Homo sapiens: one gene and its partners. The protein of the gene in region 2 interacts with the protein of the main gene of each other region in a biochemical or structural test. Each region holds a gene or a part of one and is shown on either strand. Other genes may lie near its edges.

Evidence for each region. Proteins that work in one complex are often made in the same cells at the same time.
Region 1: the proteins of LNX2 (region 2) and NET1 interact in a test that uses a peptide from one of them, tested with the Homo sapiens proteins (one large-scale study listed by IntAct).
Region 3: the proteins of LNX2 (region 2) and SEMA4F interact in a test that uses a peptide from one of them, tested with the Homo sapiens proteins (one large-scale study listed by IntAct).
Region 4: the proteins of LNX2 (region 2) and AGMAT interact in a test that uses a peptide from one of them, tested with the Homo sapiens proteins (one large-scale study listed by IntAct).

Annotation. Positions count from the first base shown.
Region 1 is NC_000010.11:5,422,557-5,426,056, reverse strand, and holds part of NET1 (neuroepithelial cell-transforming gene 1 protein), read right to left. Parts: intron 1-3,500. UniProt on the Homo sapiens protein: Acts as a guanine nucleotide exchange factor (GEF) for RhoA GTPase. May be involved in activation of the SAPK/JNK pathway Stimulates genotoxic stress-induced RHOB activity in breast cancer cells leading to their cell death.
Region 2 is NC_000013.11:27,579,030-27,582,529, forward strand, and holds part of LNX2 (ligand of Numb protein X 2), read right to left. Parts: intron 2,775-3,500; 5' UTR 2,675-2,774; coding exon 2,268-2,674; intron 1-2,267.
Region 3 is NC_000002.12:74,674,747-74,678,246, reverse strand, and holds part of SEMA4F (semaphorin-4F isoform 1 precursor), read right to left. Parts: intron 3,360-3,500; coding exon 3,212-3,359; intron 3,086-3,211; coding exon 2,863-3,085; intron 2,723-2,862; coding exon 2,613-2,722; intron 2,499-2,612; coding exon 2,338-2,498; intron 1-2,337. UniProt on the Homo sapiens protein: Probable cell surface receptor that regulates oligodendroglial precursor cell migration. Might also regulate differentiation of oligodendroglial precursor cells. Has growth cone collapse activity against retinal ganglion-cell axons.
Region 4 is NC_000001.11:15,575,052-15,578,551, reverse strand, and holds part of AGMAT (guanidino acid hydrolase, mitochondrial precursor), read left to right. Parts: intron 1-687; coding exon 688-867; intron 868-3,500. UniProt on the Homo sapiens protein: Hydrolyzes linear guanidino acids to form urea and the corresponding amines. Displays specificity for substrates having a negatively charged head group and short chains including taurocyamine, guanidino propanoic and butanoic acids.

The DNA of each region.
Region 1 (3,500 bases), on a different chromosome or scaffold from region 2:
CTTTTCCATTCAATGTAAACACATAAAGCAAGAAAGTCTTATGACAAAACCTGTCTTCACCTTTCTAAAATATAAGCCGCCATATGTTTATAAAGTATAAACCTCTGTGTTTATAAAATATGTAGAAATTACAAAAACATAGCTAGCACAAGAGATAAAGGCAGTTTATAAAGTGTATTTATTATTAATTACTTCAGATGTAAACAAATGTAGAATGAACACATTATTTTTTTCCTTGTGGAAATAAATGAAGATCAACCAAAAGAGAAAAGCAAAGGGTATTTATTCAGTGCTTGCTACAACAAGGGAGTCATCTATCGTCATTTGCATCTTGACAGAGACTAAAAGACAGGTAGACGAGTGTGAAGTTTCATAATGGAAAAAAGAGAAGGCTCAGGTATGGCCTGATGGAGGCTGTTGGCCTGTGGAGCTGTAGGCAGGCTAACTAGAAGTGGAGGCATCCTACTGTGATTGGTTAGGGGTATATCTGGCTTTCACAGGTTGGTTATGAATTGGAAGTGTGACAAAAATTAGGAAGCTGGCAGTTATTAATGAAGTCCTGGACATTTTAGGTCAATTGTTATGGTAGTTATTTGGCTTCTTGGACTGTGAAGTCATTGTCTGTTTATACATGTGATCCTTAAGCTTCATAGTCGTTGTTCATCAAGTTATAGAAACACCACTGATGAGTGTCTTTCCTGCAAAAATGTACAAGCTTAAACCAAATCAAGGGCTTCTGGAGTTTTCTAAGCTAAATATGAAGGAGAAATTTTGTTGTTGTTGTTGTTTTTGTTTTTTTTCCGACAAGGAACACAAAGGAAACTGGCTATAAGGTAAAAGAGGAGGTCTGGAAAGCTTCACAGATGAATTAATACTTAAGTAATACAAAGTATTACTGAATCTGAAAGAAAAATAGCAATTAACAAAGCATTAAGGTGGAGTGAAATGAGTTACATTCTGGAAACTGCAAGTAGTTCCTCACATTTGAGTAAAGAAATAAGGACGGGCTAAAGCATCATGAAAGGCCTCACTTACTGCACTCAGAGAGAATGGCCTTGATCTTGAGTATGTGTGGCAGCCATTGAATCTTAAGTAACGTGAACAATAGATTGTAAGAAGGCAAGACTGCTCAGTTGGGAGGCAGCTCTAATATTGCTTACAAAAGATGACTGGGGCTCTGGCAGCAGTAACAAGATTAGAGAGGAGAAGCTGATTTGAGAGACGGTTCGATGTCAAAATTGCCAGGAAAGACTTTCCCCTTTTCCTCCCTAAACCTGTTCAGTTATTACCAAGGTTCTTGACCTGGGGAAAATATGATGCCACTAACAGAAATTAGATGCAAAGATCTTAAGATATTTAAAACAAACATTTCCTAAATAATTATTTGGAGAAGATCAAAACACAGGAAGACTACTCATGGAGCTCAAACTATTTTTGACGGCCTCTTTAGTGGCGCAAAACAATCTAAGAAGCTGATTATTCCATCTTTTCTTGCTACTGCAGAAAAGTCAAGCATCAACAAAGAAAATGGTATTTTTTTCTTGAGAAAACCCTGGAACAAAGTATTTAAACAAAAAAAGTCATCTGAAATAAATTATAATTTGTATCAAGAAATACATAGGATTACTATCATAAACAAATGGTAAAATATTATGGAAAGACAGGACCTCTCTGTCATGAGTCCACAGATCACACTTAAAAATACTGCTCTAGGAATTAATACTCTTAGTGTATTAGGTGCTACTGTATGCTACATGGTTAGCAGGAGCCATCAGTGGGCACTGGCTTAAGAAAAAACAATTATGATGTCTCAGGTTATTTTAAATCTAATACAAATCTACATTACAAAGTGGCATTAACTGTGGCACTTAAAATATTCAGTAAATACTTCCTTTCAGGTTTAAGTATTAGGGAGCATTACAAAACCAAAGCTACTAATTTCTTTATTCCCTAGAAATGACCACACTAACCTCAGAATGCATTTGGCATCTAAAAGCTGGAAAGAAAAATGGTTCTTAAGAATTTTTAAAAGGTTAACTGGAAAAATATTTCCAATCATATGATAAAATTCTTTCCAGCAGTATCTGTAACCAGCTTTACAGTAATGCTATTTTTTCCCACTTCAATAACAAGATTCTATTTATTTTGAATACCCATGGAAAAAAGGAACCCAAAAAACAAACCGTGCCCACAAAGGATGTGAGACAGTGCCAACTTTCACAAATCTTGGAAAGACATATACTCATTTTTTCACAAGCGTCAGACTCAAAATGTAATAGCTATTTTAAATCCTTGTGGGGAAAAAAATGATTTCATAAAACATTAAGATTGCAAGTTATTTTTCCAGAGGATACACAGAATAACCTCCTAAAAAGGAGGGCTTAAAGGATGAAATGTAGAGCGAAAAGTGGCAGTCCACCTTTTCAAGAATTTTTGTCCATATATCCAATGTATTTTTCTATATATCCAAATAATTACAACATTTAAGGAATAAAATAAACTAATACATTAAGGAATTAGCTTAGTGTATTAAATTAAGTTCCCGATTTGACTCCTGTAGATTTTCCTTGGCCTTTAATGTTTTCCTTTCATATCATTTGGTATGTTTTTGAACAATGTATTTACACTAAATTAGGTTTAGTCTAAAGAAATCATAATTAAAATGATAAAGCTGCTGTTCAAAAGAAAAGCATCTTGTTAATTCATTCTTAAGCCAAATTATGTTTTCAGAGTTTCTGATTTGTGTCACCACCTCCTCCATCATGCCAGATAAGACCTGACCTGAAATTATAAATATTTTCAAAAAACGTATTGAAAATTACTATTACCAACAGGAAAAAAGCATTCTTAAAAGCATAATTTACCCTCAAGATGCATTCACCATAAAAAATGGATGTAGAATGAAAACGAGTTTCAGAAAAAGATTTTAAAAAGGATAATGTTATCATTTATTGGGTGCCTACTATGTGACAAGCACTGTACATATACTCTTATCCTAAAAATAACATTTTTTCCAATTAAATAAAAAATGTAATCTGTAAATGCCAAACATATAAAAAGAATTATACCATACATGTAAAAAGAATGGTATAATTTATCCTCTGCAGTTAACACTTTTTACATTTGGGGTGTGCCAAGCAACTGAGGTTCTCAATTTCTTTGCAAATCAGGCAAAAACAAACTAAATTATTATAGAAACAATTCATTTATTTGGGTCAAATATCTGATGTAGTAGACATCCACTACTGTTTTGGCTGTTCAGCATCTTTGCTATTAAGGAGTTGTCTCTTCTTCCACTTCTGACAATCATGTAGACTATGTCTCCTATCATACTAGGGTTTTCTCATCTGCATGAGAGTCTCAACTAATACATACATCTTGGAATATCTTGTCTAGAACACAGTTGAGCATCTAGAAACCAGCAAACACCACCCCCAAAGCACCCCAGACATCCTAATGTCCTGCATTAATTCTCAGGCCTTGCCCACAGCAGCAAATTC
Region 2 (3,500 bases):
AGACTATAAAGACATGGTTCTGTTTCTAAAGGAATCTACAACCCGGCATTAGATTCTAACTTGCAGAGACTACCTAACACCTAGAAAAGTATCTGGCACATAGCAGATAATCAATATTTGCTGAATAAACAAATGAACTATATTATTTAGGGTTGAATGTTGTATAATATACATTTCTACCTGAATTTCAATGTTCTTATTTAAGAGAACAGAGAAAGGTCAGGCTGTTCATCACTATCTGTTCAAATGGCATATAAAAATCATATTACATTTTATAATTTTTTTACATTTATATACTCAGTAATCACTCTTAGCTGTCTGTATCAGGCAAATCACCACCTTTTCCAATCATCCATCTTTTCACTGTATCTTTCATGTTACAGGCCTAAGATACTTTAGAAATGATAAAATTGGTTACTTCAATACTAATAAGCACAGCTGGAAAATGAAACCTTCAACTGGATAAGCCTTTACCAACATGTAAATGAAAAGGCAGTTTGCAATTACCAAGGTTTTTTACATTCTCATTATAAATGGTTTGATAAGAAACACTAGTAATAGTTCAACTGCAAATTAAATTCTTGAATGCATGTTAAAGGAATATTCCTGAAAATCTGTGAAACTGTTATCTTTCAGCTCTCAAAATCATAAATAACTGAACTGACATTTCATTCAGTTCCTCTAACATCTCATAACTGATGTTTAGAAAAGAAGCCTATACACTGAAAAGAACAGTTCTACTGAAAGAAGCAGCCTGAAATATTCTTCAGCCATAACTAGTCCTGACTCAGACTAGTATATTCAAAAGACCAGTGTCAGTTTCCAGGAGGCCTCTGCCATCATGTTCAGATTCTATGCTTGCTGGTTACAGAAGATATAAAAAAATGCAATGCTACATTATTACACGCATTTTCAAAAGTCTGTCTATCCTACTCTATCTTACCTCCTAGTTCTAGACAACACAGTTTAGAGTTAAGCATTCTATAAATCTAAATGTTTCCAACATTTTAATAACATCTTTGTTTTTTTCATTGTTTCTCATGTCTTAACTCTGATGTTTAGAAATAAATATCAACAATATATTGATACAAAATGAATGTGTATTTCATGTGCACATGAATGAAACTTTTGCTACATAGCAGCAGAGAACATGACTTGACCTACGATAGAGTCAACATGGTTTATTAGAATAGTAAACAAGAACAGTAAAGCTTGAGTCTAACTACAGCATTAACTAAATTTTTGTGACTCAGTCTCCTTATTCATAAAATGAGGGGGATTAGATAATCTCCTTCAAGTCTATGATTTTATGTGTGAGTATAATAGCAAGCCATTCTATATCAGACTTACACTCTTACATCTAAGTCCAGTATGATGTAGTATGCATTGTTTTTCACAGCAATCGAGATTACTGCAGATTTATACTGTAAAACTGGCTTAACTTGAAATTAGAAACCAGTATTTATTTCTGCCATTTTATGTGATTCTACACAAATGACGTATACTGTAACTCTTCCTAAGTTAAAGATCAAGTCTTTTAGCAAAATCAAATTATAAAACTCATCAGCTAAATAAATTACTTAACCTTTTAAAAAGCTTTTATGAGAACAGAAATCCCCACTAAATATTTAGTTTTCCAACTCCTAATTCTTGTTCAGTCTAGTCCCTGAACCCAGAATCTTTACAAGATCTTAGCAAATAAAATAATGTATTTATTTCCATATTGCAACAAAATTATCGTTTTTATTGGCTGCATAATATCCCACTGAGTTTATGTGCATAGTATTTTTTAACCCTTCCCTACTTTTAAATAACTGATTCCAATTTACCAAACTATGCACAATGTTGCACTGAACATATTTACATACAATTTTTCCTGCTTTTAGATTATTTCCTTAGGATAATAAACTAGATAAAAGGAGATTTACATTCATATAGTTTTTAAAAACAAACTGCCAAACTGCTTTATAGAAAGAATCTATCATAATATCCTGTCATCTATTTGAATATATCAGTTTCATATTACAGCAGCAGAAATATTAACAGGTATAAAACAGTACTTCCTCACTGTAGTTTTTGTATTCATGTTTTTGATAAATAATGTTAAATACTGTTCCATACAACTTATTTATTGTATCTCTTCTGTACTTGATTCACCCATTTACTTACTAGTGCTCTGGTTTGTTTTGTTTTAATCAAGTTTTTATGTTCATTTGAACCACCTTTTTCCAAAATCTGGAGTTACTTCTTTTATATTTTTTGCTTACCTGTTTTTGAGATGTGCCTCCAGATCACAACGTTGCATTACATCTTTGCACACTGAAGAAAATGGACATAAAACTAATAATTTGTCTAGGAGTTTATGAACTAGAATACTAGACTTCTTGCACAACTTAAAATGAAGTCTTTTCCGGTCCAACGGACAGAAATCTTTCTCTTGTAAAAAGTTTCTGAGGCACTTGTAGCAGAATGTATGTCCACAGGGTGTGTCTAGTGGCTGCAGCAGAGGTTGAAGGCAAATATGGCAGACTAGGTCATCATCCACTTCATTCTGGTAATTGTACAAATGGTTTTCTCTTGTCCAGTGCTGTTGGCCACATTCAAAACACAGGGGGTTTAGAGAAGAGGAGGAGGTCTGTTCCACAGACACCATCTCATCACTTGTTGTTCCCATTTTGAATCAATTCTGTATCCTCATGTGTTAGACTTCCACTTCACGCTTGGTTTCCTTTAACAGACAGTGATGTATCTGACTAAAGTCAAGGTGTGTTTTTCTAGATAAGCAAAACAAACACATTAAAAAAGGTAATTAATATCAATCAAGATAGGTTAAAAGTATCAATGTAATATTACTGGTTAGCTTTTTTTAGTAAAAAATTAAAGGTTGAATCAGGTAATAAATTAGTCATAAAAAAAGAAATTAATTTTCTAGTTGGCTAAGAAGGACTTACACTGCCAAGTTCTTTTTTATTATAAGTTTTAATTGTCTCTTTTGATTTTTTTATTTATTTGCTTTTTGAGTCAGGGTCTTGCTCTGTCACCCAGGCTGGAGTGCAGTGGTGCAATCTCAGCTCACTGCAACCTCTGCCTTCCAGGCTCAAGTGACTCTCCCATCTCAGCCTCCCGAGTAGCTGGTACTACAGGTGCACGCCACCATGTCCTGTTAATTTTTTTGTATTTTTTTGTAGAGACAGGGTTTCCATGGTGGAAAGCCCAGGGTGGTCTTGAACTCCTGGACTCAAGCAATCAGCCCTCCCAAAGTGCTAGGATTACAGGTGTGAGCCACCGTGCCTGGCTCCCACTGTCAAGTTCTTGATAAAAAAACAACTTTTGATGAAAGGTAAAGACACCATAGATTATATAGTGTGACATAAGAAACAATCGATTTGTTTTACTGACTGAAATCCCCAAATATGTCACTGTTCAATGGTAGTTTTAAAGCCAATTAATTGTGCTAATAGTAATGCTGTTTGAGGTATATAATACATTTGCATGTCATC
Region 3 (3,500 bases), on a different chromosome or scaffold from region 2:
ACTCATGTATACCTTAAGGGAATCCTTGAGGCTCAAGTATAGAGGATATCTAAGACCAGTGAATTCTTATTTTAATGGAAATTAAAACAATAAAGGACAGAATAAAGCCCTTGCTTTTCTCTTAGATGTTTAAAAGTTCTCCCCCAAAAAACTAAAAGACCAGGTTAAAGTTCTTAACCAAAAATGCAAAGCTGGCCAAGCCTGTCATCCAAGAGTTACTTTATATCCCCAACTGGCAAAAAGTCAAGAATCTGATCAAGAGACGGCATAAGATTTTACACTTATAATTCATGACAAATATCAGAAAAACAAAATTAAATGTTATGACTATTCTAATTATATGCCAGTTTTTTCTTTCATATCTAGCCCTACAGATCAGTTACCATTTTAAACATTTCACTCTGTTTTGACATGTGTGAATTAATCTGTTTTATTCCAAAAGACAAGTACTTTTACCTCTACAGAATTTGTAGCCATGGGGTTTTGTAATATTCTGGATTTTGTATATACTTGAGGTTCTGTAGTATACAAATATGCTATAAATTAACTGGACTTCAAAATAGGAAATCTCAAGGTCAGTTTGCAAAAACACTTTCGAATCAAGTGATTAAAAATACTTTACTGGAAGATCTCAACAATTAAAATACACTTAAGAAACATATCAACCAATTACAATTAATAAGCATTATTTGGATACTGACATAAACTTTTTAAAATATATGCAATTGAAGAAATCAGAACACTGACTGGATATTTGATGACATTAAGAAAGTAAGTTTTTGGTATGATAATGGTAATATGGTTTTTTTTTAAAGCCCTTGTATGTTAGAGATACGGACAGAAAGATTTATGGATGAAGTGAAATGATGTCCAGGATTTGCATCAAAGTAGTTGGGAATGAGTAAACGTACTGATGAGGCAAGATTGACCAGGAGCTGATGGTTGTTGAAGCTGAGGGATGGATGCATGGAAATTCATTATACAATTCTCTCTACTTTTGGATATGATTGAACTTTCCCACAATAAAATGTTTTTAAGAGTCCTGGGCTGGGCGCAGTGGCTCACACCTGTAATCCCAGCACTTTGGGAGGCCAAGGCAAGTGGATTGCTTGAGGTCAGGAGTTCCAGACCAGCCTGGCCAACGTAGTGAAACCCCGTCTCTACCAAAAATACAAAAATCAGCCGGGCATGGTGGCGGGCACCTGTAATCCCAGCTATTCGGGAGGCTGAGGCAGGAGAATCGCTTGAATAAGGGAGGCAGAGGTTGCAGTGAGCCGAGATGGCGTCACTGTACCCCAGCCTGGGCGACAGAGTGAGACTCCATCTCAAAAACAACAAACAAACAAACAAAAAACTCCTTATCTAGTAGAGATACATATTGAAATATTTAAGATGAATATGATATAATGTCAGGGATTTGCTTCAACGTGACATATGCTTTTAAGCTGCTAAATGGAAAATGGATGGTAGGAGCCCAAAATGGTCAAAAAAAGACCAATTAGGTTATTAGAGTAGTCCAGTTAAGAAGCGATGATGGCTTGGACTAGAGTGGTAGTGGTAGAGGTGGACAGAAGAGGGTGGACTAAGGACATTTGGGTGCTAGAATCAGTACAAATCATAATACGATGTGGGCAATTTCTGGCTTGAGCAACTGGATGCATGGAGGTCCCTTTACTGGAATGAGGAAGACCAGAGGAGGAGCATGTGAGAGAAAGAGGAAACAACAGTGCATACTTTGACTTGCTAAGTTTGAGTTGCTTATGAAGCATCCAAGGGAATATCAAGTAGACAGTCGGATGGGGAGTTCCACAGCTCAACTAGATATATTTGTGGTTGTCATTAGCACTCAGATGGTATTGAAAGTAACCAGAATGAAACTGCCTAGAGAGTGCATGAACGTGTGAAGAGAATGGGTCCAGGACTGAACCCTGAGGAATATCAACATTCAGTTGTTGGATGGGAAAGTAAAGGAGACCAAAGAATGCAGTCATAGAGAGCAAGAGGAAAGTATTTCAAGGAAAGAGGGAGTGGACAACTGTGAAAACACTTCCAAGAGCTCTTGTAAGATGAAAACTAAGCAGCATCCACTAGAGATGGCACACTGTCAGGTCAAGGCAGGTCCAGCAGAGAGGCAAGGACATTGATGAGGTAGCACTAGATGGACAAACAGATGAGCTAGTATGGACTGACAGAAGGACACACGAGTGATGTAGACACTAACAGACAGAAAAAGAAAACAGCCTCCGGCAGGGCAGCATTAACAGATGAGAAACGTAGACATATGGATGGGACAGAGCCCTGGCACAGTAAGCAAGAAATCCAGGCAGCTACACTCACCCTCGGTGCTCCCCGGCATGGGCCACACACTCATCCAGCCGGAAGCTCCAGGCACAGACTGGGTCCTGGGCCAGGATGCACTCTGAGCAGCTCTGGAGACGGCCACAGTTGGTTGTATTCACTTGTGTCACCTCAGTACGGGAGCCAACCAGGAGCCAGCTCTATAAAAACGGAGTGGGGAAGGGGAATACACTGGATCTCCCAGACCTCAGGGTCACAAACTGGCTCTGGACTCAGATGTCTCCCCAATAGACTCTCCAAAATCTACAACTCACGTGGTACAATTTCATGTTCTCAACTGGCTGTGGCTCTGGGAATAAGGCCAGATCTTCAAGAACGCTGAGCTGAGCTCCGATCCGCACTGCTCGGTGGAGGTGTCCATCCTCTAGGGGACAGGAAAGGAACAAGAATAATTACATAATTGCCCCTGTGCCTGGGACTCAGACCTATATGTATTACAGTACCCTCTCTGTGACGAGAATGTGTATGCACTAGGTAGGCAGCCTGCTTGACCATTAAATATACCTGTCCCCAGGTAGAGCACATCATACTCTTTCCCTGAGAGGCTGGTCACCCTGTGGGCCACGACTCTGAGATAGGCTGTATCTGTAGTGACCAGCAGGGGGTGGCCATCAGCTGGAAACACTGGCCTGTCCATGAGTGGGTGGTCCCGGATGAAGGTGAGTACGCGGTCAGGCAGGGAGAGAGATGAGCCAAAGTGCCGGAGCTTCATGTTGTTGGTGATGCACTAGAGGAAATACAGGGCTGGTGACAAAGTTTCCCAGGAACAGGACATGCCAGTGATGCTTAGTGGGGCTCTTGCCTTAATAGCAGCTCTTGACTTCAGGCCTAGAATGAAGATCTGCCCCCTCACCTCTCCAGGTCTGGGCTGGGGCACATCATTGTCCACGACAGGCAGTCCTCTGTTGCAGTCATGTTTTAGTTCTCTGAAGGGACCATTCAGCACTGTCCGAATGTCTTGTGGTCGGAAGGCACAGACAGCAGAGATAGTAGCCCCCTCCCTGGAATTCACAGGTTGGAGCTGGATATATGGAGGGGTCTGGGGGATAGCAACTCATCCCTTGTCAAATGAGATGACCCCCGAGAAACGCACAGGGAGCCATGCAGCCAAAGGCGGGAGAGCCTGCCCCCTCTGGAAGAGA
Region 4 (3,500 bases), on a different chromosome or scaffold from region 2:
AGGCTAAGGTGGGTGGATCACCTGAGGTCAGGAGTTCGAGACCAGCCTGGCCAACATGGTGAAACCCCGTCTCTCCTAAAAATACAAAAATTAGCCAGGTGTGGCGGTGCGCACCTGTAATCCCAGCTACTCGGGAGACTGAGGCAGGAGAATTGCTTGAACGTGGGAGGTGGAGGTTGCAGTGAGCTGAGATCGCGCCACTGCACTCTAGCCTAGGTGACAAAGTGAGACTCCATCTCAAAAGAAAAAAAAAAGAGGGGAGGAAGTCCGGACCCAAGATGAGTTGCCACCTTCTTAGTTCTGGTCCTCGTACCCTCTAGGCAGAATGGCTCTCAGATAGACGTGTATGACAAGACCCCAATGGAACAGACCCAAATCCCTTGCTTTTAGAGCGTGCCAAGGCCAGTCTTCTGGACAGAGCAATTCAAAAGGTGCTAGCGTGAGCTGCTGTTTCCCACTCTTGCTTTAGCAAAGCTTCTCTCTGATTCCAACTCCATCAGTCAGCTTTGACCCTGCTTCCTTACCACTCATTGTCCCTCCCTTCCTCACCTGTAAAATAGGATAGTTCCCTCTTCATGGAGATGGAGGGTCAAGTGTCATGTGCACACAGAGCTGAGCATGGGGCTGGCAAACAGGAAATGCCCTGTAAATGCTGCCAGACAGAAACCTCAGTCCCTGTCTCTGCAGGGCTTCCGGGTAGTCCTGGCTGAAGACTGCTGGATGAAGTCGCTGGTTCCTCTGATGGGGGAAGTCAGGCAGCAGATGGGAGGCAAACCCATTTATATCAGCTTTGATATTGACGCTCTGGATCCTGCCTATGCGCCAGGGACAGGGACACCTGAAATTGCTGGTCTCACTCCTAGTCAGGTAAGGAGATTCCACCAGTGAAGATCCTGGGGGTGGAGACACTTAACACCCATTTTCCTGGGACTTGAAGCGAATCTTTAGGAATCAGGATAGGATTTTTGTTTGTTTGTTTGAGACGGAGTCTCACTCTGTCGCCCAGGCTGGAGTGCAGTGGTGCGATCTCGGCTCACTGCAACCTCCGCCTCCCAGGTTCAAGCGATTCTCCTGCCTCAGCCTCCTGAGTAGCTGAGATTACAGGCACATGCCACTACGCCCGGCTAATTTTTGTATTTTTAGTAGAGATGGGGTTTCACCATGTTGGTCAGGCTGGTCTTGAACTCCTGATCTCGTGATCCACTCACCTCGGCTTCCCAAAGTGCTGGGATTACGGGTGTCAGCCACCGCGCCTGGCTGCCAAGGTAGGATTTTAAGAGCAGAGCACCTAGGCCTTTTCTGTTCTCTGGGCTGAGGATAAGTTTGAATACCCTCTTACTGAAGGGTGATTGATTTTGGCAAGGGCCTTCATTTCCTATCTGGGATATAATAGTCCCTTATTTTGTCCTTTATTTGCTCTTCCTGCCTTCAGTTCATCTGTCATGAAAACAACAGTTCATAGGAACAACATTATAGTATCCTCTCTTAAGAACACTAAACTTGGCCGGGCACGGTGGCTCACGTCTATAATCCCAGCACTTTGGGAGGCTGAGGTGGGTGGATCACGAGGTCAGGAGATCGAGACCATCTTGGCTAACACGGTGAAACTCCGTCTCTACTAAAAATACAAAAAAATTAGCCGGGCGCGGTGGCGGGTGCCTGTAATCTCAGCTACTCAGGAGGCTGAGGCAGGAGAATGGCATGAACCCGGGAGGCAGAGCTTGCAGTGAGCCGAGATAGAACCACTGCAGTCTGGCCTGGGCGAAAGAGTGAAACTCCATCTCAAAAAAAAAAAAAAAAAAAAAAAAAAAGAACACTAAACTTGGCCAGGTGTCGTGGCTCACGCCTGGAATCCCAGCACTCTGGGAGGCCGAGGCGGGTGGATCACAAGGTCAGGAGTTCGAGACCAGCCTAGCCAAGATGGTGAAACCCTGTCTCTACTAAAAGTACAAAAATCAGCCCGGCACGGTGGCAGGCGTCTGTAATCCCAGCTACTTGGGAGGCTGAGGCAGGAGAATTGCTTGAACCCTGGAGGCGGAGGTTGCAGTGAGCTGAGATCGTGCCACTGTACTCCAGCCTGGGCAACAGAGCAAGACTCCACCTCAAAAAAAAAACCAACCAACCAACCAAACAAAAACACTAAACTTGGCCGGGCGCAGTGGCTCACACCTGTAATCCCAGCACTTTGGGAGGCCAAGGCATCAGGCGGGTGGTTCACCTGAGGTAGGGAGTTTGAGACCAGCCTAACATGGAGAAACCCCATTTCTACTAAAAATACAAAATTAGCCGGGCATGGTGGCGCATGCCTGTAATCCCAGCTACTCGGGAGGCTGAGGCAGGGGAATCACTTGAACCTGGGAGGCTGAGGTTGTGGTGAGCCGAGATCATGATATTGCACTCCAGTCTGGGCAACAAGAGTGAAACTCCATCTCAAAACAAACAAAAACACTAAACTTATCTTTTTAGGGTTAAATTTAAATAAAAGTGCATACAACGGGCCAGGCGCGGTGGCTCAGGCACTATCCTCAGCACTTTGGGAGGCCAGGGTGGATGGATCGTTTGAGCCCAGGAGTTTCAGCCCAGCCTGGGCAACATAGTGAGATCCCATCTTTACTAAAAATAAAAATAAAAATTAGTCTGGTGTGCTAGTGTGCACCTGTAGTCCCAGCTACTAGGGAGGCTGGGGCAGGAGGATCAACTGAGCCTGGCAGGTCAAGCCTTCAGTGAGCCGTGATCATACCACTGCACTATAGCCCGGGTGACAGAGACCCTGTCTCAAAAATAAATAAATAAATAAATAAATAAATAAATAAATAAATAAAAGTGCATGTGATGGCACAATTACCTGCCAAGGTAAGCTCAAGAGTTTTAGAAACACCCAAATAAAGCTCCAATAATGTGTGCTGGGAGTAAATGCACGGGGGCAGAATGGTTATGACTAGAATCTCCCCAAGGGCAGGACCTATGTATTGTTCCCTACCTTGTCCTTGGAGCCTAGGACAGTGCCTAATACAAATAGTAGGCACTCAAAGACATTTGAGAGTAAATGAATGAAGACTGCTTAAACCTAATCAAGTACCTTACATCCTCTAAGATCTTAAAGGAGGGTGGCCATAACTCTCTCTCTTGAAATGGCTGTAACCATCCTCTCTTCTCATGAGGGATTTCTGAAACACATTCCTCATCCCTCTGCTTAGCAACCTTCTGGGCTTTTCACCTGCAGGATGGGAACCCTTTCAGACAAGGTCACTCTCTTCCCATCAGTCTCCCTCACTTACTCTGTCTTCTGGCCACATCTTACTACCTGAACTTTTCCCATCTTGGTGCCTTTGCCTGTGTTTTTCCCTCTGCCTGGCCTATCCCTTGAACTGGGTATTTCCACCTTGGGGAAGCCTTACCCACCTCTCCAGGCTATTACCTATGCTGATACCATTCTGGGCTTGCTTTCCTTGAAGCCCTTGGTGCATGACATTGAAACGATTGGTTTCCTTGTCTCCATC